Linked DNA regions of Homo sapiens. The protein of the gene in region 5 purifies or fractionates together with the protein of the main gene of each other region. This does not show direct contact. Each region holds a gene or a part of one and is shown on either strand. Other genes may lie near its edges.

Region 1 (3,500 bases), on a different chromosome or scaffold from region 5:
CTGCCCTGTTCATACCCAACTAGCTACCTAATGTAACACAGTCACTTCTTAAAGGTCCTACCTTTCAATATTTTAATAATATTAATTTAAATATTAATTTCCAAAAAATGAAATTTGGGGGACACATTCAAACCATGGCACCACCTCTTAGCTTCTGTGACATTTCTCTATCCTGGCTTTCCTCTTAACTCTAATGACTTATTCTTAAATTCTTTTGTGTATTCTTCCTTATCAGTTTATCCCTTGTTGGTTTTTCTATGAGGTTGGAGAGAGAGTGTGTGTGTGTGTGTGTGTGTGTGTGTGTGTGTGTTCACACGTGCATATGTGTGTTTTATCCTAGATTCTGAACTTTGTCCCATATTAGATGTATAGCCAACAATTTATTAGATAAATCCATGGTACTTGGATGAACCCAGGCTCCTCAGGTCTTTACACATTTGTCTCCCTTTTTACTGGAATGCTTTTCCTCTCTCCATCTTTCTTTTGCTCTCCCCTTTCTCCTTCCTCACTGTCTTTTATTCACTCTTCAAGGTTTTGCTCCAGTGTCACCTCCTCTGGAAAGCCTTCTCTCTCTCTCTGTTTTTTTTTTTTTTTTTGCAATGGAGTCTTGCTCTGTTGCCCTGGCTGGCATGCAGTGGCGTGATCTTGGTGCGCTGCAATCTCTGCCTTAAGGGTTCAAGCGATTCTCCTGCCTCAGTCTCCCAAGTAGCTGGGACTACAGACGCCAGCTACCACACCCGGCTAATTTTTGTATTTTTAGTAGAGACGGGGTTTCACCATACCGGCCAGGCTGATCTCTACCTGACCTCAGGTGGTCCACCCACCTCGGCCTCCCAAAGTGCTGGGATTTCCACCTCCTGGGTTCAAGCGATTCACATGCCTCAGCCTTCCAAGTAGCTGGGATTACAGGCACCCGCCACCATTCCTGGCTAATTTTTATAATTTTAGTAGAAGTGGGTTTTCGGCATGTTGGCTAGGCTGATCTCGAACGCCTGACCTCAGGTGATCCTGCCTCAGCCTCCCCAGTTGCTGGGGTTACAGATGTGAGCCACTGCACCTGGCCTGGAAAGGCTTCTCTCACTGTCCCTCACAACAATTTGGGTCAGAAGCTTTTCCTGTATACTCCCGTTTCCCTTTATCATTAGCCCTTAATATGGAGTGTCCTAACACTGTATTTACAGAGAGTTTACTTAACTCCCCTACTAGATTGTCTAGATTGTTAGGATTGTTTTTTTTTTTAATTTTTGTGGTTTTTTTTGTAAATGGAGTCTCGCTCTGTCACCCAGGCTCGAGGTCAGTGATGCAATCTTGGCTCACTGCAGCCTCCACCTCCAAGGTTCAAGTGATTCTCCTGCCTCAGCCTCCCAAGTAGCTGGGATTACAGTCGTGCACCACCACGCCCAGCTAATTTTTGTATTTTTAGTAGAGACAGGGTTTCACTGTGTTGACCAGGCTGGTCTCAAACTCCTGACCTTGGGTGACCCACCACCTCAGCCTCTCAAAGTGCTGGCATTACAAGTGTGAGCCACCATGCCCAGCCCAGTTTTTACGAATTTCTACTTTTTGAAAATGCTCTCCTAAAATATATTTTTAAAGGAATATAAGAAGAAAAGAAATACAAATTTTACTTTTTACTGGTTTAGTGCCATATTTTCATTGCTATTTTGAAAATAATATTACATGAAATTATTACCCATTACACTAAAAATTCTTTCCATGCTGGTAGTCATTGGAATTGGCACAATTCTGGAGCAACGTCTTCTCTACTAAAAAGATATTTTCATGTATCAAAATTCTTAATTTCTTGGCATTTAGTCTTTTTAGTCAAAATTCTCAAAAGAAGGATATTAGTAGTGATTAGGTCTACTCAGCATACTATGTTGAGTTTTGAAAAGTACTCTCTTTTCTCCAGATATTTTGAAAACTCTTTAAAGAGTCTTGCTATCAGGCCCAGTGCTGTGACTCACGTGCCTGTAATCCCAGCGCTTTGGGAGGCCAAGTTGGGAGGATTGCTTGAGCCCAAGAGTTCAAGACCAGCCTGGGTAACGATATAAGACCTCGTCTCTACAAAAAAATTTAAAAAGTTATCTGGGTATGGTGGTGCTACTCCCTGTAGTCCCAGCTGCTTGGGAGCCTGAGTTGGGAGGATTTCTTGAGCAAAGGAGTTTGAGGTTACAGTGAGCCAAGATTATGCCACTGTATTCTGGCCTGGGTGACAGAGCCAGACCCTGTCTCAGAAAAAAAAAAAAAAAAAAGTTTTGCTTTCAAACCACTACACATTTAACATTAAAATTGAGTTTTCATTGCTTTTTTGAAAATTAAAATTTTATGTAACATGAAATTATTATTTTCTATTTTAGTAGAGATGACAAATGAAGCTAAAGGTAATACAGGAAGAAAATGAAAACCAGAGTACCTAAAATGAAAGATATTTTAACGGCTAGAACTTTAAATATTATGTATCATTATACTTTTGCATATTATTTCTTATTTTTTTCATAAAGAAAAACGCACCTAAATATTTTCACTTTAAATATCTTTAGGGAATTACCAGGCACGGTGGCTCACACCAACAATCCCAGCACTTTGGGAGGCCAAGGCAGGCAGCTCACCTGAGGTCAGGAGTTAAGAGATCAGCCTGGCCAACATGGTGAAACCGCGTCGCTACTAAAAAAAATATAAAAATTAGCTGTGCCCACGTGGTGGCACATGCCTGTAATCTCAGCTACTTGGGAGGCTGAGGCAGGAGAATCGCTTGAACCTGGGAGGTAGAGGTTGTAGTGACCTGAGATCGCACCATTGCACCCCAGCCTGGGCAACAAGATCAAAACTCCGTCTCAAAAGTAAATAAATAAATAAAATAAAATAAATAAATAAATATCTTTAGGGAACAAAAGGTCATAGTTTTCCTTATTAAATTGTTCTACCACTTATCTATATTTGTTTAAATTTATTTCCTAAAATTTAATAAAAGCCATTAAATAGGAAGATTAGAGATAGAATCTTCCTATGTTGCCCAGACTGGAGTGCAGTGGCTTTTCACAGGTACAGTCATAGTGTGTTACAGCCTCCAACTCCTGGGCTCAAGGGATCCTTCTACTCTAGACTGCTGAGTAGCTGAGATTACAGGCATGGGCCACTTCGCCTGGCTTAGCCTACCACATATGAAAAAAAGTAATCTGGCTGAGTGCGGTGGCTCATGCCACTAATCCCAATATTTTGGGAGGCCAAGGTGGGAGAATTCCTCCCTCCCGCGGCAGGAGGATTGCTTTGAGAGTTGGAGGCGGGAAGTTCAAGACCAGCCTGGGCAACATAGGGAGACCCTGTCTCTACAAAAATAAAAAAATTAGGTGGGCATGGTGGTGCATACCTGTAGTCCTGGCTACTCAAGAGGCTGAGGCAGGAGGATCACTTGGGCCTCAAAGGTCGAGGCTGCACTGAGCCGTGATCGGACCACTGCGCTCCAGCCTGGATGTCAGAGTGAGACCCTGTCTCAAAAA
Region 2 (3,500 bases), on a different chromosome or scaffold from region 5:
AACAAACTGCTTATTATTTGGCAATTTAAAAAAATGATGGTTTGAAGTAGATATGCCCTCCCACTGATTCCAACTCCGTGTCTCATATCTGTGGCTTCACTTATTAATGTGATCAGTCTAGCCCCTGAAGGCATAAGGGTTTACAATTTTTGATTTACAGATTGTTAAAAACTAGTTGGGTGGCTCTCTTGCTCCCATTAATTTTTTTTTTTTTTTTTATGAGATGGGGGTCTTACTATGTTGCCCAGGATGGATTTGAAATCCTGGGCTTAAGGGATCCTCCTGCTCAGGCTCTGGACTAGCTGGGATTACAGGTGTGTGCCACCACACCTTGCTTTCCCACTAATTCTGTTCCTGCTAGTTTCTTCCCTTACAAGTAAGGTGGGTCATATTTACCTGTGAGAAACTCAGAAATACTCACTTTTCCAGGACAGCTGGGGTGAAGAGAATATGTAGTGGCCACTGTACTTTGTAGGAAAGACCTAGGGCTGCCCAGCCAGATGCAGGGGCTTCCCGGGGAGAAGTTTCCCGAGAAGGCCCTTCTCTTGCCTGAGTAGCATCTGCTGTGATAAAAGAAAAGAAAAAAAGAAAAGATAACAACTTGGTTAATCTAGAACCAGAGACTCAACAAGTGAATAACATTAATGAAACTAGAGCTCACAGGAGTTCAAGACCAGTCTGGGCAATACAGTGAAACCCCATCTCTACTAAAAATACATAAATTAGCTGGGCATGGTGGCACGCACTTGTAGTCCCAGCTACTCAGGGGGGCTGAGGCATGAGAATTGTTTGAACCTGGAAGGCAGAGGTTGTAGTGAGCCAAGATTGTGCCACTGCACTCCAGCCTGGTCAACAGAGTGAGACTCTGTCTCCAAAAGAAAAGCAACAGAGCTCAATGGAGTCTGCGATGTCAGAAGCTTACAGGGGACACTAAGAAGGGGGCAAGGAAACTTCTATGTGAGGTTCTCTTGGGAGGTCTTCTAGAGATTCTTTCCTCAGCCTTAAAATCTGGGGGCTGGAAATAAACAGGCACCATTCCAGCAGCATGACAAAAAAAAACACCAAAAAAACCAACTCCCCCAAAACATGGCCTGGGCATCTCACTTAGCCTCTCTGGACTTCTGGACTTTCCTTTTCTTCTCTATAGAATTATAGTACTGTACTAGCTGATTTCTAAGATCCAAAATCATATGGTTTCTGTGGCGGGGGATGGAAGCAGAGATGGGAAAATGGATGATGACCAGCAGGAACTCTAAGGTGGCAGGGAGGAATGGCAAACCTTTGTGCTCCTTTCCGTGATACTCGATTGTCAAGTGCAACAGAGGGAGAAGGTTGTCATCATCTAGCAATACCTTGTGTGCTGACTGTTGAAAGGCCACATTCACATCTGCAAGAAAGAACACGCAGGCTGACAGGGACGCTTGGCTACATAACAAACCCAGACTCCTCCAGCTTTCCACTTCTCCCCCAACATGCTCAATGCTAACAGCAGGACACAGTGGACATCTGTTTCATTTGTCTAACACCCATCCATCCTTCTCTTCTTGCTGACAAACTGCCTCTTGATTTTCCTTGGAGAATCATCCCTATTCAGTACAGTTCACATATTTCCAGTGGGTTAGTGCTAGACAACACCTGATTCTAGGGGTAGCTGGGTGATGTAGGCATGATCAAATGGAATGTAATACTCTACTTTGTTATGCTATATTGTTTAGGGATATTAACATGACCAAGCCAGGCCAATCCAGAGGCTCTATTCAGACTCTAAAAGAGTCCAGCTCTTTTTTCAAGATAAACAGGGGCTTAGTAGGATGTAAACTTGGCTAGAGACTATCTTGCTACCATACAGAGCAGGCCTGTCTGAGAAGAAAGAGGTAGAAGATGGAAAGAGACCAAGTCCTAAAGGTGCCACACCTGTCACTGGATCAAACTTAGCCGAAAACCATCATACGTCTGAGCTTTTCAGTTATGAGAATCAATACATTATTTCTTTCCTTTTGCTTTGCTTAAGTGAGTTTGAATTGGATTTTCTGATATTTGCAACCACAAGTACTTATATTTGTACTATATAAGTACAGTGGACATCTATGGTTTTACTGAGTTAGAAAAATGATCAGCCTGTGTGTATGTATTTTCTTTCTCACAGTTTCTTTTTTTGGATCCTTACCCAACTCTACTCATGCAGTATGAATGGGAATGGACATCAGTGGGTCAAGGGGTAGACTCTTCACTGAACTAGGCATAGCCTAGTGTCTGACCTCTTTGACTGATACAGGGATAGGGATGTGATGTGGGCTGGGCCAATCAAAACCTAGATAATTCCCTAGAATTCTCTAACTTGCAACAAGAGGGACTGGGTTCAGTTCCTTCCGTAGAGGACACTGTGAGGCATATTCCTGGGAGATGCTGTGATCATGTTTCCAGAAGGTCATCAAAGTGTTCACAAGAGACACAAACAAGATGTGGTGAATGAGTGAATGAGAGAGAGAGAGAATGAATCGAAGTTTTCCCACTGGGGTTTTAGATACAATAGCAAATCCATTTCCCTTTCCTAACTAGGCTAGTTCGGGTGAGTTTCCATCATTCACACCTAAAGAATTCTACTGCAAAACTACAAGCAGCACTAAGTCCCAATATGGCCCATAAAGTATATATGGCTATAATCCAATGAGAAAAAATACCTGGTTTGAAGGCCTGAACCAACTCTTCCAGGAAGGGTCACAGGCCAAGACACTGTTCCCAATGACCCCAGCATGAAGCCTACCTGCAAGAGCCTTCCATCTCTGGAAGCCACTGCTCTGTAACTCATCAGGCTGCTCTTATGTGGAGCAGGCCTTAAAAGGGTCAGCAGCAGCCAAGAAATACCCTGCAATGTCAATCAGTTGATCATTCTCAGGGCCACTGACAATTACCATGCTCAGTTACTGCAGTGGGTGGTGTTTTCAACATGTGTTGAGCTGTGTCAATGAAGGCCTGAAACAGTTCTCCACGTCCCAGAAGGTAAAAGTCTTTAATGATCTGAGGAAAGAATTTCAATTTACAATTCAGTAAAGCAAGGCAGGAGCTCCTCACTGTCCTGAGGAATTACATGTATACAGTAATTTCTAATTTCATCAATTTGAGCCCAAGCTACAAAAGATACAGGCATTTGGCATTTCAAAGAGGCATACTTAGTTCCGCATAGCAGGATGACTGGTGTGTATTTGGCATTATTTATTCAATAGCAACATAATTATATATATATGCCAGAAAAAAGTACACTCCCAAATCTTTGTATTATCGTAGATTTGTGGCATTAGGTATAGTTTGCTCACTTGGATAAGAACAAATGAGTTGACTCTGGAAGTCTGGGTATAGGCAACCAGTGCTCTCAGGAAACATCAGAGAATGCAAGTCACTGCCTACCAGCATCACCGTAAGAATTACAACAGCTAAGCCATTACCTTCAGCTGACCCAGTAAATCGGATTCTTCTACCATCAACTTCCAGAGATGCTATGA
Region 3 (3,500 bases), 6.3 Mb from region 5:
TGTGTGTGTGTGTGTGTGTGTGTTTTGTTTTTGTTTTTATTTTTTTTGAGACGGATTCTCGCTCTATTGCCTAGGCTGGAGTGCAATGGCACAATCTTGGCTCACTGCAACCTCCGCTTCCTGGGTTCAAGCAATTCTCCTGCCTCAGCCTCCTGAGTAGCTGAGATTACAGGAGGGCTCCACCACACCCGGCTAATTTTTTATATTTTGGTAGAGATGGGGTTTCACCATGTTGGCCAGGCTGGTCTCGAACTCCTGACCTCAAGTAATCCTCCCACCTCGGCCTCCCAAAGTGTTGGGATTACAAGCGTGAGACACCACGCCTGACCTTGGTTTGTTTGTTTGTTTTTTTTTTTGAGACAGAGTTTCGCTCTTGTTGCCCAGGCTGGAGTGCAATTGTGCAATCTCGGCTCACTGCAACCTCCACCTCCCGGGTTCAAGCGATTCTCCTGCCTCAGCCTCCCGAGTAGCTGGGATTACAGGCATGTGCCATCATGCCTGGCTAATTTTTTGTTATTTTTAGTTAGAGATGGGGTTTCACCGTGTTAGCCAGGATGGTCTTGATCTCCTGACCTCAGGTGATCCACCCACCTTGGCCTCCAAAAGTGCTGGGATTACAGGCGTGAGCCACCACGCCCGGCCACATTTTTTTTTTTTTTATTTTTAGAGGCAGAGTCTCACTCTGTCACCCTGGCTGGAGTGCAGTGGCGTGATCATGGCTCACTACAGCCTCTACCTCCCAGAGTCAAGCAAACCTCCTACCTCGGCCTCCTAGCAGCTGGGACTACAGGTGGCACCACGATATCGTGCTAATTTTTTTTTTTTTTTTTTTGGACAAAGTCTTCCTCTGTCACCCAGGCTGGAGTACAGTGGCATGATCTCAGCTCACTGCAGCCTCTGCCTCCCGAGTTCAAGAGATTCTTGTGCCTCAGCCTCCCAACTAGCTGGGATCACAGGCATGAGCTGCCATGCCTGGCCTGGCTAATTTTTTTTTTTTTTTTTGAGGCAGAATCTCGCTCTGTTGCCCAAGCTGGAGTGCAGTGGCGCGATCTCAGCTCACTGCAAGCTCTGCCTCCCGGGTTCACGCCATTCTCCTGCCTCAGCCTCCCGAGTAGCTGGGACTACAGGCGCCCGTCACCATGCCCGGCTAATTTTTTGTATTTTAGTAGAGACGGGGTTTCACCATGTTAGCCAGGATGGTCTCGATCTCCTGACCTTGTGATCTGCCCACCTCGACCTCCTAAACCTGGCTAATTTTTAAATGTTTTGTAGAGATAGGGTCTCGCTATGTTGCCCAGGTTGAATTCCTGGCTTCAAGTGATCCTCCCACCTCGGCCTCCCAAAGTGTTGGGATTACAGGCATGAGCCACCGCGCTCGGTCATATATATTTTTTTAATGTCATAAATTTTGAAACACTGCTTACTAGTAAGACCATAACAGTTCTTATTTCCACAAGAAGCAAGAGAAAGATCTTTTCCCAGCATCCTGCCCTGCAGTGGGTTGCAGTTCTTTTTAACTTTTGCCAATCTGTCAGGTGTAAAGTGATATCCCCTTGATACCCTTAGCAACACATGTTTCTAAGTCCTAAATGTATTAATCACGCCATACTCCTTTCCAGGGCCTAACTCAAATTTCTGACCCCTTTCTGAGACCCTAAAACACACCTCCTAAACCCAACCTCAGCCCTGACCAGTGACCTTTGTACCCCAACCTTCATCTCATCTGTCTAAACTTTAGGCTCACTCCTGTAATCACAACACTTTGGGAGGCCGAGGCGGGAGGATCACCTGAGGCCTGGACAACATAGTGAGACCCTGTCTCTACAAACAAAATAAGAAAATTAGCAGGGCGTGGTGGCCTGTGGCTCTAGTCCCAACTACTTGGGAGGCTGAGGTGGGAGGATCACTTGTGCCCAGGTGTTGGAGGCTGCAGTGAGCTATGATCCCACCACTGCACTCCAGAAAGGGCGACAGAGGGAGACTCTGTGGCTTAAAAAGAAAAAGAAACTTTAGTAATCTGCTTTCCTTTGAGTCCTGAAAACCAGGAACTCAGTACCTTTCTATTTCTTTCCAGATCCTCTCTATCCTCCCACACTCCCTCCAACTGACCCCTCCGACCGGTCCCTCTTAGAGGCTCACCCCTCACTTCCGTCTCCTTCCAATGCATCTCCTCTCATTTACCTCCAAATAGGGCAGCCCCTCCCTCCCCATAGCAGGGCCCTCCCAGGCAGGCTCCTAGTGGCCGGCGCCGGTGGATGGGGGAGGGGCCAGGTCGCCTGAGGCGGGGGCTAAGTTTAGGCACGCTGGGGGGAGGGGGCCTCCCCGCAGCTGTTCTGGCCCGTCTGGCCCCTGAGTGACAGCGCTGCCTGGGGCCGAGGCTGGGGGAGGGGGTCCTCCCTGCTCCTGGGCCCCAAAGTGCTGGCTCGAAGGAGAAGGGACCCCATGCTCCCTCTGGGTCCTCCCTATACTGCCCCTCGGCCCCCTAGCCCCAGCCTGCAGCGCTGCGGAAGCAGATCAGTAATAAAAATGCTCCGGATGTGCAGGAGATAAGGGCGAGTTTGGACCCCGTTCCGCCGACCTCAGCCCCCGTCCAGCCCGTTCCGCAAGCCCACCTTTACTCCCCATATCGGCTCCGAGTGAGAGGCTGGGGACACCGCTGCTTCTCGGGGATTTTGCCCACTTCAGTAGAACCCGGAGGACAGGAGTAGGGGGGGTGGGGCCCCTTTGGACCCAGCCAATGGCTGTCCACAGAGGTGGGGACAATTCCAAAATTGGAACCGTCTTGTAAACAGCCAAAAGCAATGATGTCTTTAACCATTCCATAGCTGTTCCTGGAGGCGGAGCATATTTTAAAGTAAGGCTGGGTCATTTTACAACTGGCCAATAGATGTGGTCAGGAAAAAGAGGGTTTTTGTTTGTTTTTTCAAATAGAGATCGAGTCTCCCTATGTTGCCCAGGCTGGTCTTGCACTCTTGGCTTCAAAGGATCCTCCCGCCTCGGCCTCCCAAAGTGTTTAGGATTACAGGCATGAGCCACTGCGCCCGGCCAAAAAGAAGAGTTTTTAAAAGGCACAGAGTTTACTTATAAATATTCTACGGCCACATCTAAATAAGGAGAGAACTGTATTTTTTCAGGGATTTGGCCTGTCCAAAATCAGCCACTAGGAGGAGCACTCCAGAAGAGGGAGGATTATTTTATTTTATTTTTATTTTTTGAGACGGAGTCTCGCTCTGTCGCCCAGGCTGGAGTGCAGTGGCGCGATCTTGGCTCACTGCAACCTCTGCCTTCCAGGTTCAAGCGATTCTCCTGCCTCAGCCTCCCGAGTACAGACGGGGTTTCACCATGTTGGCCAGGCTGATCTCGAACTCCTCACCTCAAGTGATCCGCCCGCCTCGGCCTCCCAAAGGGCTGGGATTACAGGCATGAGCCACCGCGCCCGGCCGGGGAAATTTTTTTAAAAAGCGGAGTTTATCACGTCTAGCCAGATGTGATATCACGTC
Region 4 (3,500 bases), on a different chromosome or scaffold from region 5:
CACTGCAAGCTCTGCCTCCCCGGTTCATGCCATTCTCCTGCCTCAGCCTCCTGAGTAGCTGGGACTACAGGTGCCCGCCACCACGCCCTGCTAATTTTTTGTATTTTTAGTAGAGACAGGGTTTCACCCTGTTGGCCAGGATGGTTTTGATCTCCTGACCTCGTGATCCGCCCGTCTCGGCCTCCCAAAGTGCTGGGACTACAGGCGCGAGCCACCGTGGCTGGCCTGTAGTATCTATTTTTTCATTGAAAACACTGTTTTAACAGCCTAGATGTATGCCTACCTGTTATTAGAAGAATAAGCTTAATATTCCAAGTGTCTAGGTTTCTTTAGTCATAGCTTGTTATTCCCAATTTTATTACATTTTGCTTGAGAGGTCCTGGTACATACAGGTAATTACATACAGGTAATTGTTTTTGCATTTACTTTCCTCATGGCCTTGTGTTTGATTAGTTATGACAAAAGGCACCCACACTTTTTATGAGTTATTTCCGGAACTCACAATTTAGGATGGTCTAACATAGAATCTCGGTTGTTTTTTTTGTTTGTTTTTTGGGGTTTTTCTTGAGATGGAGTCTAACTCTGTCGCCCAGGCTGGAGTGCAGTGGTGCAATCTTGGCTCACTGTTACTTCCGCCTGCTTGATTCAAGTGATTCTCCTTCCTCAGCCACCCAAGCTGGGCAGTCACCACCATACCCGGCTAATTTTTGTGTTTTTAGTAGAGATCAGGTTTCACCATGTTGGCCAGGCTGGTCTTGAACTCCTGACCTCAAGTGATCTGCCCACCTCGGCCTCCCAAAGTGCTGGGATTACAGGTGTGAGCCACCGTCCCTGGCTGGAATGTCAGTTTTTAATGTTCTTATAGGATATTAATGTTTTGGGCCTGTCTTTGGGAGTCCAGTACTTATGACTGTTCAAGGGCTACAGCCAGTGTGAAAACTCTGATACCGTGCCCGTCATCAGCATATCCAGCAGCAGGAGGGTTGTGGGAGGGGTGGTGGCGCGGCTTCCTCTCATGCAGATCTGGAAACAGGTATGCTCGTTCGCTACACTGAAGGGGGGGCCCTAACTTTGAATATATTTCAAAGGATTGTCAATCAAAGGATTTGGGAGCAGTAAGGGGTATTGGTGACTGCTGTACGGAAGATTGCTCAGAAAAAAGAAAGACTTTGTTGAACTAGACAGCTCATATTTTAGGTCATCTCAGCCAATCTGGTTCATAAAGAAAAATTACCCCAAAGGAGCATTTATTTTAGTTGTTTTTAGCTTAAGTATTTGGTTTATGTACTTAGTCAAATTTAAAATGTTTCCTTTTCATGATGAACTTTGGCATTCTCATTGTGGGAGGTGAGTTTCTGTGCACAGAGCCCCAGTGGACAGCATTTTACCTGTAGGGAATAAAGGGGCCCAACTTTTCATTTGAGGAAAACTTTTTTGTTTGTTTGTTTCGAGATGGAGTCTCACTCTGTCGCCCAGGCTGGAGCGCAGTGGCATGATCTCGGCTCACTGTAACTTCCTCCTCCCGGGTTCAAGCAGTTCTGTGCCTCAGCCTCCCAAGTAGCTGGGATTACATGTGCCCACCACCATGCCCAGCTAATTTTTGTATTTTTAATAGAGACGAGGTTTCACCATCTTGGCCAGACTGGTCTTGAACTCCTGACCACCTGCCTTGGCCTCCCAAAGTGCTGGGATTATAGGCATGAGCCACCGCGCCCGGCTGAGGAAAACATTTTTTAAACTTAATGCCACATTGGCTTAATTTGGTAACTTAATATAGCAGCAATATCAACTTAATACGGTACCAGTATGAAACTTTCTTTTTTAGAGAGATTGTTTCCTTATCGTAGGGCATTTAGGAATCCTACTGCTTCTCCATTTCTTCAGTTTTCAGTCATATTTCTTGTGTACGTTTTGTTGATTTGTAATTCACACTACACATTTATATATATTTATTCAATAGTTTTAAAATTATTTTATATGCCTTTTATCACAATATGGTGCCATTCTTGTATGTGTTCCGTTTCAGTGGTTCATTTGTTTTCTTCTGCTTGGTTCCTTTTTTACTTTGCAAAACTTTGTTGAGCTCAGATTACACTGCAGTGGAGTAGGAGGGAATTCCCCATTCTTTCTCAAACTTAGGCTAATTTGTGCTGCTATTGTTGGGTATTTTCTTAGTATCCAGACTTTTTTTTTTTTTTCTATTTTAAAGGGATTTCTTCAAAAGTTGCCACCCCCAGAAGTTTTATATTTCTTTTTCTTTTGGCTTAAAATCATGTTCTTTTTAGAATATAAGCTGTGTCCTTGGGTTTGTGTGTATCTGAGTTCCCTGTAATATAAGTGTAGTCTATTGCAGTTGTTTTGATATTTTGTCTTTCGCAGGATGCACACGGTTGGTTTAGCCTGATATGAAGTCCACTCACTCGGTCTGTGGCCAGACCCCCCATGCCTGGCCTTTGTCTACTTCTGCAGGGTTATCTCTGATTGCAGGCACACACCTACCACATCATGTGGCATTTTACATTATTTTGTTAAATGTCTGCGTCTTCACCTAGGGACGGTCATTTAGTTCATCTGTGAATCCTTTGAATCACAGTACATAGAACATAGTAGGTGCTTAGTATATACTTGCTATGTGGACACTCAACAGAGTTGTGTTGGACTTTTCTTTCCTCAAATGTAAGAGACCAGGCAACATAATGGTTACAAATTAAGTTAGAAGATGGAGGAGTGCTCCCTCTATTGTCATTTGAGAAGCCATTTTTCCAAGCTTGGAGGGTATCTCTTTAAAAAAAATTTTTTTTTTAATTGATGTAAAGGTTTTTGAAAGCTGAGTTTTGTCTCCAGTGGATTGTAAGCTTTTGAGGCCAAGGCCATGTCTTAGTGCCACCTCTGTTTCATCTCCTTTGTCCCTACACAGGTAGTAGGTCCTCCATTCTTGCTGATTATGAATAAAGCAAAGAAATACATGTACCTCTGCTGTATGAATTAGAAGCTTTGTGTTTGTTATTATTAGACTAGGAGCATGTTACAGGCACAGAGCATATTGTGTTTATCTCTGTAGCCACAGCATGTAGTGTAGTACCTGAATTTTAGTGGGAATTTGGTAACTTCTGGTAGTTATGTTGATTAGTCTCCTTGGAAGAAAGTAACTTTATAAGCTACGGATGTTAAATGGTGAGATCATAAATTGGCTGAATCTCCAGGCATGGTGGCTCACACCTGTAATCCCAGCACTTTGGGAGGCCAAGGGTGGCGGATCACCTGAGGTCAGGAGTTTGAGACCATCCTGGCTAACGCGGTGAAACCCTGTCTCTACTAAAAATACAAAAAATTAGCCGGGCGAGGTGGCGGGCGCCTGTAGTCCCAGCTACTCCGGAGGCTGAGGCAGGAGAATGGCGTGAACCCCAGGGGGCGGAGCCTGCAGTGAGCCGAGATTGCGCCACTGCACTCCAGCCTGGGCGACAGCGAGACTCCGTCTCAAAAAAAAAAAAAAAAATTAG
Region 5 (3,426 bases):
TGCAGGGGGAAAGTTTGTGGGAAGATGAGAGGGCATCCTGGGCCAATGCAGGGAGGGAAATTATTGGAAAGAACAAGAAGTCTTTATTCACAGTGACAGAGGCAGGTAGACTGAGGGTCAGGGGAGGACCGGCTGAAAATTTCACATCTAGTTATTACCATTTTCTCATTATAATGTCAGTCAAGGGCATCTGCTGAGAGTGGGAAAAACAGAGTAAATGAGGTACTTTTTGGAGAAAGCAGGACTGAAATAATTAAGGTGTGGGATAGCGAGTGCGCTGGAGAAGTAGAGTAACCTAATGAGGAACTGCTGAGTTTTCATTTGAAATCTGTGGTCATAAATTCAATTGCAACCCTCGATAATTGTGAAAGTCACTTCCGCTCTCTGAGCCGTACTTTCCTACCTGTTACACAAGGACAGCACTTGTCCCAAAGCAAGGGTATTGTAATCAGAGATGATAAAATATATAGTGACTGGCACATATTAAGGACTCACCAAATAGCAGACCTCATAATCAGTACAGGTATCATCTGTGGTTCGCAGTTCTCCTCCTTACATTACAACTAGGGTGGACCCAAAACTTTGCAATTTTTGCCTTGTTAATTTGTCCTCACCTGTCATTGCACAATCATCCTTCCTTGTTGCATCAACATTTTTTTTTTTCTGAGACAGAGTCTCGCTCTTTCACCCAGGCTGGAGTGCTGTGGCACGATCTTGGCTCACTGCAACCTCTGCCTCCCAGACTCAAGTGATTCTCCTGCCTCAGCCTCCCAAGTAACTGGGATTACAGGCACCCACCACCATGCCCAGCTAATTTTTGTATTTTTAGTAGAGACAGGGTTTCACCATGTTGGCCAGGCTGGTTTCAAATTCCTGGCCTCAAGTGATCCACCTGTCTTGGCCTCCCAAAGTGCTAGGATTACAGGCGTGAGCCACTGCGCCCAGCCTGTATCAACATTTTAAAATGAATTTGAAATTATGGATAGATCATGTCTTCTAAGTGTCTTGTAGAATGTTTGGAGTGTGGATAGAGAAAATCTGAGTCTGTTGAGGAACTATGGGGTGGAAAAGGGTTAACAGCACAATTCTGTTGTAATCAATCTGGCTGAGCTCCAATTCTGTCTCTACTCTTTCTACCTGGTAACGTTGAACAATTAACGCAGCCCATCTAAGTCTTAACTTCCTCATCTGTACAATGGTTATACTAATTATCAGGCTGCTGCAAAAGTACTTGTGGTTTTTGATATTATTTTCAATGGCAAAAACAGCGTTACTTTTGCACCAACCTAATATCACTAAGATTAATCAATATTCACTGTGTCTCAGGAGTGCTCAGTGTTCACACATATTAACACAGCCCATCCACAGATCCTGTGAGAGGCGTTGATAGGGTTAAAGGAAAAGCTCTTGGTGTGTGGGTAATGTTCATAAGTAGAAACAACTATTGCTATGAGCATCGTTCTTGTCCTGACCTTGAACTTCATAATGGATTGAGCCCCACGACACAGCACACAGCCTGGTGAGGGCCAAGAGTTCCCATTTGTCATAGATATACTCAGTCTAGCCTAAAAGATTTCCACATCTATTCTCACTTAATCCTCACCTGAAAGTTAGACTTCACCATAAAATTGTCCTCGTTCTGCAGAGCAGAAAACTGAGGCTCAAAGAGATATCACTGACTAAAAACTCATAGTGAGGAGACATCACAGATGAGATTAGAAGAGAGATGTAGCTGACTTCAGAGCCCAGTATATATATATATTTTAGACAGAGTCTCGCTCTGTCCCCCAGGCTGGAGTGCAGTGGCACGGCTCACTGCAACCTCCGCCTCCCGGGTTCAAGCGATTCTCCTGCCTCAGCCTCCCGAGTAGCTGGGACTGCAAGTGCATGCCACCAGGCCCGGCTAATTTTTTGTATTTTCGGTAGAGACGGGGCTTCACCGTATTGCCCAGGGTGGTCTGGAACTCCTGACCTCAGGCAATCCACCCCCCTTGGCCTCCCAAAGTGTTGGGATTACAGGCGTGAGCCACCGTATCTGGCTGAGCCCAGTATTCTTTGTAACAGTGACTCTCAATTGGGGGTGACTTTGCCTCCGAGGGGACCTTTGACAATGTTTATGGAACCTGTTGATTGTCATTTCTGGAGAAGGAGTTGCTACTGGTGTCTGTGGATAGAGGCCAGGGGGGCTGCTCAACATCCTACTGTGTCCAGAACAGTCTGCCACAACGAAGAATTACCCAGACCCAGATGTCAAAGGTGCCAAGGTTGAGAAACCCTGAGCTACATTAAATAACGTCCCATGGAATACCTCAGTGAAACTCACTGGTAATAGCAGGAAGAAAAGGAGGAAATAAGGAAAAGGAAGAAGGCTAAAAATCACCAGACTGAGGCATAGCCCTATCCTAGTAATCTTGGGGGAATCCCTTTCAAAGGCAGGACTTCCGTATGCAAAGGCAGTGGCTCTGGAGTTGTTCATCTCGGTTTCCGTATCTTGCTGCCTCCACTGACTGGCTGGGCATGATGTTGAAAAAAACTACAGAAGTCCCCGGGCCATGAATTCCCCCAGATGTGATGGCTGTTTCCCAATGTTATTATGAGCATTAGATGTGAACAAGTGCTATGGAATTGCTATTTCTCTTAAAGATGCTGAATAGCCCAGTCTGAGATGATTCTCAAATTCTCATGGCCATAGCAAATCATCCTGGCTTTTACACATACAGATTCTAGAATGAGATTTATGGATATAATTGTTTTTCATTTTTATTATAAGTTCAGGGGTATATGTGCAGGTTTGTTATACAGGTAAACTTGTATCCTGGTGTTTTCTTGTACAGATTATTTCATCACTGAGATATTAAGCCTAATACCCACTACTTATTTTTCCTGATCCTGTCCCTCCCCTCACCCTCCACCTTCCGGTAGGCCCCAGTGTTCCCCTCTTTGTGTCCATGTGTTCTCATCATTTACCTCCCATTTGTAAATGAGAACATGTGGTATTTGGTTTTCTGTTCCTGCATTAGTTTGCTAAGGATAATGAATACAATTTTAACAGGCAGCCTGGATGTTTCTGATAAAGTCCACAGACCACGGCATAAGAAAATGTGCTCAGGTGACGTGGGACTTTGTGTTGAACTGGATACAAATATTACAGATGTGATCCGGACCAGAGGCAGGGACTACATGTTTTGGGTTTTTGTTCTTAAAAGAAAAAAACAAAAACAAAAAAACTTGATCTGAGAAGCTCTGAAGGGTCATATTCTTACAATGTTATTGTCCACAATTTAGTCACGTGTCCACTACCAAAGCAATCCCTTGCAAAGTAAAAGGGATTCTGGTTAGTGCTAATTAGACTAGTCAGGATTTACTCCCAACATGGAGAAAAGACACCTTCTCTGCAGGGTGAGTAACTAAACACAATTGTGGTTT
Region 6 (3,500 bases), on a different chromosome or scaffold from region 5:
AAGTATTTTCTCTAGTCTGTTTGGGTGACTGGTGGTGCCATTAGCTAAAATAGGGCCTAGAGGAAGAGCAACAATGCAGGAGGAGACTCTAGCAAGGTGAAGACTTTTAGTTTCAGATATTTTGAGATTGCCAAAAATTTGGTAGAGAGAAGTGATATTGATAGGGCATTGATTGATTGGCTACAGTCATTCTCTTCATTCCTAGGATGATATTAATCCATCATCAAAATCTACATGCTTGAATCAGATTTACACTGAGTTTTAGTGTTTGTGCCTGCTGTTTTTATCAAGGGAAATAGGTATATGCTGTAGGTGTCTTTGGATGTGGTTCTCTTAATATCCGTTTATATGAACTTGCTCATGAGAAATCTCTGTGGGGCCAGATGCTAGATTTCTTCCTGTTAAGCAACAGTAATAACTGCCTGAATGCTTTGCTCTGTTCACATTGTCAGGAAACTGACACTCATGGGCACATTGTCAGAGTCATTCTCTGGAAACATTTGTATTGGCTGTAAGGTCCATCTCTTCACCCTACATCTTGACCCCCCACCTTGATTTTCATCTTATGTAACTCTTTGTAAAAGGGTTGTAAGAGTATAAATAATTTAAAAGAATTGCCAGTAGTTATTTCTAGTGCCAGGCATATGGCTTCGCATATAGGGGGGATGCTGAGTAGATGTCATCATGATACAAAGAATCAAATGGCAGATGTCTCCAAAAATGGAAAGTCAGAGGGTTTCGAGAGTCTACTTCAGGATTTATCCTGACTAAAAGAAATAACAAATCTGTTTCTCATTTCTTGTTGTCATTATTGTTGATACTGTAGCTTGCAAACCATACTGGGTACATCAAAGTTGACTGGCAACGAGTGGAGAAGGACATGAAGAAAGCCAAAGAGCAGCTGAAGATCCGTAAGAGCAATCAGATACCTACTGAGGTCAGGAGCAAAGCTGAGGAGGTGAGACTTGCATTGTTCACGTGTAGTGTGTGAACAGTGCAGACAAAAACAGGGCTTAACCCTATTGTACCATATCTCAGTGATGGACAGGGCTTAAGCATTACAAAGAACTTAGAGTAATGAGACAAAACTAACTTGGATTATCATCACTTCAGAACATTTTTAAAAGCTGGATAATTGTTTGGTGACCTTTGTCTGTGCACATTTGTGGAGTGATTATCCCTTTAACCAGTTCTTGTAGGAATGTGGGGCAGCATAGTAGGTGGGAAGGATATATGGCCAGTATAATTATTTTGAGTCCCATTTTGTCGCTATACACGCATATCTCTGAAACATTCATACTCTGCTTGTTCTGCATATAACTAGTGGAAATGTCACAAGTATTCAACTCCACTGTATATCATCAAAATAGCCATAGATGATATGTTAAATAAGTGGATGTGGCTGTGTTGCAATAAAACTTTATTTAAAAACAGGTTCAGATTGGATTTGGCCCATGGGCTGTAGTTTGCTAACCCCTGATCTTGTTCATTAAAGCCAAGTTAGATTATGACCTGGCACTGCAGGGACAGGAGAAGTCCTTCCTTTTTAAAAGGATATTTTTTGCTGCTGCTTTATTACCTTTAGAAATATGTCAGATGTTGCAAATAAATAAGTACACTGAACTGGGGAGAAATAAACAAGGATCAGGGTGTCAAGAAGATAGCTGGTACTTTCTGTAGCCTGGAGTGATGAGAGATTCTCCCATTAGCTCACTCTAGCCTCACAGGGAAAACAGACAGATTGAGTGCAGGGGAGGAGAAATACCCTGTGTGCGCCTCAGGCTTCTCATGTTGTGAGTGGCTCTTCGTGCTGGTGATTGGCAAGTGGCTGGTCAAAGCTGGTGCCTTTACCCAGAGTGGGAAGGTGGCAGAGATGGGTATCTACAGGAGCCCAGAGCCCAGATAGTTTCTCTTTCCTTTCTTCCTTCTGTCTCTCCTCAAAGTTAGGAAAGTTACATTTTTTATTTCATGAAAACTTTATTATTCAAATGTTTATAAAAATAATGCATGGCTGGGCACAGTGACTCACCACAGTGAGTAAAAAAAAATTTTGTAAGAGAGGTCTCACTCTGTTGCCCAGGCTGGAGTGCAGTGGCACAGTCATGGCTCACTGTTGCCTCAACCAAGCGATCCTCTGACCTCAGCCTTCTGAGTAGCTGGGTCTATAGGTGTGTACCACCACACCCGGTGAAGTTTTAAATTTTTTGGAGAGACAGGGTCTCCCTGTGTTGTCCTGGCTGGTCTCAAACTTCTGGGCTCAAGCAGTATTCCCACCTCGGCCTCCCAAAGTGCTGGCATTACAGGTGTGAGCCATGGCACCTTGCTGAAAACTTTAAAAATAATACTGGAAGTGTATATAATAAAAAGCATAAAGTTAATATTTGATTAGAACCAACTGTTGACTCACAGAGGGAGTTTGTTATAAAGTAACCAGATAATTTGGAATTGAGTTCACTGTCACAGGCCCTGGGGATGTAGTGGCTGGTTTTCCTACTCATAGAGCCGGTGGTCTGATTTGAGAAACAGGATGAAGATTTAGTTCAGTATTTACCAACAAGATGACTTCAGTGAGAACAGTTTGGTGGGGTGGTGGAGTTGAAAGCCAAATTAGCAAGTTGAAGAAAGAGTAGTAAAAATAATAAACGAAACCAATTTTCTCAGGAAGTTGTATGATTTTTTTTCTTCACCCCAATGGCAGATGACAAAAGTGCTTCATTTAAGGAAATGTAGAGGTCCAGGAGAGATGGAGGAGGAGTGGAAATGAGGCAGGAAGACATAGGCATCGTTGGAGTAAGGGCTTACTGGAGGGTTAGAAGACAGTGGTCCTAGGAGGATGGGGTTGGTAGTGTGAAAAATGTTAGGGGAATGTCAGGGTGTGAGTAGCTTAGGTGGTTTGGGGATGGAAGTCACCGTACTTGAGTTCAAGAAATGATCAGGCCAGGATGTTGGATGTCTTGTTCATATGAACACTTTCTAAGGTGGTGATCACACTTAGGAGAAAGAGGAAGTCTGAGCCACTTATCAAAATTGTCTCTGAAATTGGAAGGGTGGGGAGTGGTCAGGAGATTGGTAGAGCACAGACTAAGGAGCCATAAAGAGTGTCTGAATGTATGCACTGAGTCTCAGATGACCGGGAGCTATTCCAGGAGGGTAGAGGGGAGGTGGGAAGCTTTGGGAACTTAAGGAAATAAGAACGTCACCTGTTAATCATCTTAGATGTGGTGAAGTGTGAGAATGAGAATTTATAGCATCTACCTGGGAGCAGGTTTCAGGGGGGAATGCATGGATGGAGAGATTTAGGGGAGAGACTTCAGGAAATGAGAAGCCTCTATTGGAGGGTAGATGCCAAAGAGGATGGAAGGAGCAAAATTGGAAACAGAATTGCCTCTGTAACCAGTTTATTTAGTGCAGCTTTACTCTTTCGCCATAACTGTCCCCATGAACTCTCCTTCTTTGTCCTTGATTCAAAGAGCCATTGTCTCTACCTCCTGATGTGCATC
Region 7 (2,243 bases), on a different chromosome or scaffold from region 5:
CATTGAAGATTTTTGCGTCTGCTCATCAGGGATATTGGCCTGTCGTTTCTCTTCTTGTCATGTCTTTGGCTTTGGCATTAGGGTAATGCTGGCCTCATAGAATAAGTTTGGAAGTTCCTTCCAAATAAATGTTTTCGTCTTTAATTTTTTTGAAAGCGTTTAAGAAGGATTAGTGTTACTTTGTCTTTAAGTACCTGGTAGGACTCAACTAAAGAAGCCATCTGGTCCTGGGCTGTTTTTTTGTTGGGATGTTTTTGATTACTGATGGAATCTTGTTGTAGGTCTTACCAGGTTGTGTGTTCCCCCCCCGGATTTTCTATTCCTTGATGATTCAGTCTTGGTAGATTGTATACTTCTAGGAATTATATATTTTGTTCTAGGTTATCCAGTTTCTTGGCATATTTTTAAAAATGTTTTGTATATTTTTATTGAAATTCTTACTTTGTTCATGCATTGTTCTCCTGAGTTCGTTGAACATCTTCATGATAGTTGTTTTGCATTCTCTTTCAAATAATTCCTATACCTCTGTTTCACTGGGGTTGGTTTCCAGAGATTTATCTTCTTCCTTTGTTTGGGCCATGTTTCACTGATTCTCTATTTTCCTTAATTCTTTGTGTTGGTTTCATTGCATTAGAAAAAAAAACAGTTACCTTTCCAGTGTTCATGGACTGGCATTGTACAGGAGAACACCCTCATCAATCATTCTGATAGCCTCTCTAACCCACTCTGTATTATGTCTTTTCTGGACTTCTGCATATGTATTCCCAATCAGAGGGATTTGCTGGGTTTTTCCCTCCCCAGGAATTTATAATCTCTTGCTCCCTTTTGTGTTTATCTGCTGTATCATGGGTCTCCTGGAGCCAGTGGCATAGCCCAGCTCTTTTTTTGTTCATACTGGCCCCAGGCACCTAAAATATACTGGTCCCATCTGTGCTTCAAACCATTCCCTACAGAAACCATTCCCTCAGGTAACCTCTTACAAAGTTGGAACATTTTCACAGTCCATCTCTCCTCCCTAGGGAAAAGCTAGGATTTGGGGATGTTGGGGATTCTACCTGCTTACTCTGCACTGAGCTGGGGGAGCGGCTGTAGTGAGCTCATGCTTGCTAGTCCAAACTTCCACTTTGATTTCAGCAACTTCCAACCTGGGCCCTTTGTTTTTAGCTCTCGGACTCAGGCAAGACAGAAAACAGTCTCTCGTGCAGGTTCCAGAAAAGTCAGAATGTTGGATGTACATTCCAGTCATTTCCTTCCCTCTGCAAAAAGAAGCTGGGAGCTGAGGGTTTCCTCTCTATCATGTGGTACTGTGCTGGGTCCATGGGAAGGGAAGAATTATGGCAAGAGGGTGCCTCAGGTTTTTCTGCCGACTTTGATTCAGCTGGTTTCATGCTTTCCTATAGTGCAGAAGACCCTCAACTGGTTTCTGGATTTCCCACAAAGGGAATTTTTCCATGTGTTATTGAATCAGTGTGTCTGTAGAGGGAAGGAGTGTCCAGGGCTTCCTATTCTGTCATCTTGCTGACATCACTTTCTCCAAGGCCTTTTTTTCCCTTAAAACTGAAAAAGACCTTAAATGAATTACAGGAGAAACAATTTACATGATGGACCAGGAATCAAAATGGCATAAGGCTCTTCAACAACATCTTTGGGAGCCAGAACAAAGCCTTTGAATTCTGAGGAAAATCATTTTCAACCTAGAATTCTGTACTCAACTAAACTATCATTATGAGGGTAAAATAAAGATGTTTCTAGTCACACAAGAAGTAAAATAATTGATGTTCTATATGCAGTTTCTGAAGAAAGTAGGGGAAAATGTTCTCCACAAAAATGAGGAAGCTAGGAAAAAGACTTGGGATCTAGGAAATAAAGGGTCCAACACAGAGACAAGAAAAATTCCCAGTATGATGTAAGAAATTCTCAGGTTGGCAGCTGGGCACCAGGCTTGGATGGAGTGGAGAACAGAGAGCATCGGAAAGGATATTTTTAAGAAAAAGGGAAACATCTATAGATTATCTGATGTGATTGATTATATTCAAAAAGGATTTGTAGTTCTGTCAGTTTGTGATACAATAGTGAGAGGTACTTCGCAAATGAAGCAAAAGAAAAATGAAAATTAACTCTAAGGTATAAAATTGCCTAAGAAGGGAAATTTAAGGGTAGTACATTAATTATTTTAATTGAAATGGGATACTGTAAATACTATATTAAATTAAATGTAATTTTATTTTTTACATGATTTTTAA

Evidence for each region.
Region 1: the proteins of FPR2 (region 5) and MFSD8 purify together in Homo sapiens (affinity purification with mass spectrometry; 2 studies listed by BioGRID and IntAct, with this or other methods). This does not show direct contact.
Region 2: the proteins of FPR2 (region 5) and TUBGCP4 purify together in Homo sapiens (affinity purification with mass spectrometry; 2 studies listed by BioGRID and IntAct, with this or other methods). This does not show direct contact.
Region 3: the proteins of FPR2 (region 5) and RTN2 purify together in Homo sapiens (affinity purification with mass spectrometry; 2 studies listed by BioGRID and IntAct, with this or other methods). This does not show direct contact.
Region 4: the proteins of FPR2 (region 5) and HSDL1 purify together in Homo sapiens (affinity purification with mass spectrometry; 2 studies listed by BioGRID and IntAct, with this or other methods). This does not show direct contact.
Region 6: the proteins of FPR2 (region 5) and FUNDC2 purify together in Homo sapiens (affinity purification with mass spectrometry; 2 studies listed by BioGRID and IntAct, with this or other methods). This does not show direct contact.
Region 7: the proteins of FPR2 (region 5) and TMEM87A purify together in Homo sapiens (co-immunoprecipitation; 2 studies listed by BioGRID and IntAct, with this or other methods). This does not show direct contact.

What each region holds. Positions count from the first base shown.
Region 1 is NC_000004.12:127,944,674-127,948,173, reverse strand, and holds part of MFSD8 (major facilitator superfamily domain-containing protein 8), read left to right. Parts: intron 1-3,500. UniProt on the Homo sapiens protein: Outward-rectifying chloride channel involved in endolysosomal chloride homeostasis, membrane fusion and function. Conducts chloride currents up to hundreds of picoamperes.
Region 2 is NC_000015.10:43,395,101-43,398,600, reverse strand, and holds part of TUBGCP4 (gamma-tubulin complex component 4), read right to left. Parts: intron 3,495-3,500; coding exon 3,444-3,494; intron 3,019-3,443; coding exon 2,913-3,018; intron 1,388-2,912; coding exon 1,280-1,387; intron 564-1,279; coding exon of another isoform or gene 561-563; coding exon 422-560; intron 1-421. UniProt on the Homo sapiens protein: Component of the gamma-tubulin ring complex (gTuRC) which mediates microtubule nucleation.
Region 3 is NC_000019.10:45,490,548-45,494,047, forward strand, and holds part of RTN2 (reticulon-2), read right to left. Parts: intron 2,832-3,500; coding exon 2,613-2,831; intron 1-2,612. UniProt on the Homo sapiens protein: Inhibits amyloid precursor protein processing, probably by blocking BACE1 activity. Enhances trafficking of the glutamate transporter SLC1A1/EAAC1 from the endoplasmic reticulum to the cell surface.
Region 4 is NC_000016.10:84,131,678-84,135,177, reverse strand, and holds part of HSDL1 (inactive hydroxysteroid dehydrogenase-like protein 1), read left to right. Parts: intron 1-3,500.
Region 5 is NC_000019.10:51,764,180-51,767,605, forward strand, and holds part of FPR2 (N-formyl peptide receptor 2), read left to right. Parts: intron 1-3,426. UniProt on the Homo sapiens protein: Low affinity receptor for N-formyl-methionyl peptides, which are powerful neutrophil chemotactic factors. Binding of FMLP to the receptor causes activation of neutrophils.
Region 6 is NC_000023.11:155,050,844-155,054,343, forward strand, and holds part of FUNDC2 (FUN14 domain-containing protein 2), read left to right. Parts: intron 1-826; coding exon 827-958; intron 959-3,500. UniProt on the Homo sapiens protein: Binds directly and specifically 1,2-Diacyl-sn-glycero-3-phospho-(1'-myo-inositol-3',4',5'-bisphosphate) (PIP3) leading to the recruitment of PIP3 to mitochondria and may play a role in the regulation of the platelet activation via AKT/GSK3B/cGMP signaling pathways.
Region 7 is NC_000015.10:42,212,191-42,214,433, reverse strand, and holds part of TMEM87A (transmembrane protein 87A isoform 1 precursor), read left to right. Parts: intron 1-2,243. UniProt on the Homo sapiens protein: Potential monoatomic ion channel gated by mechanical force, implicated in normal touch sensitivity through the generation of mechanically activated currents.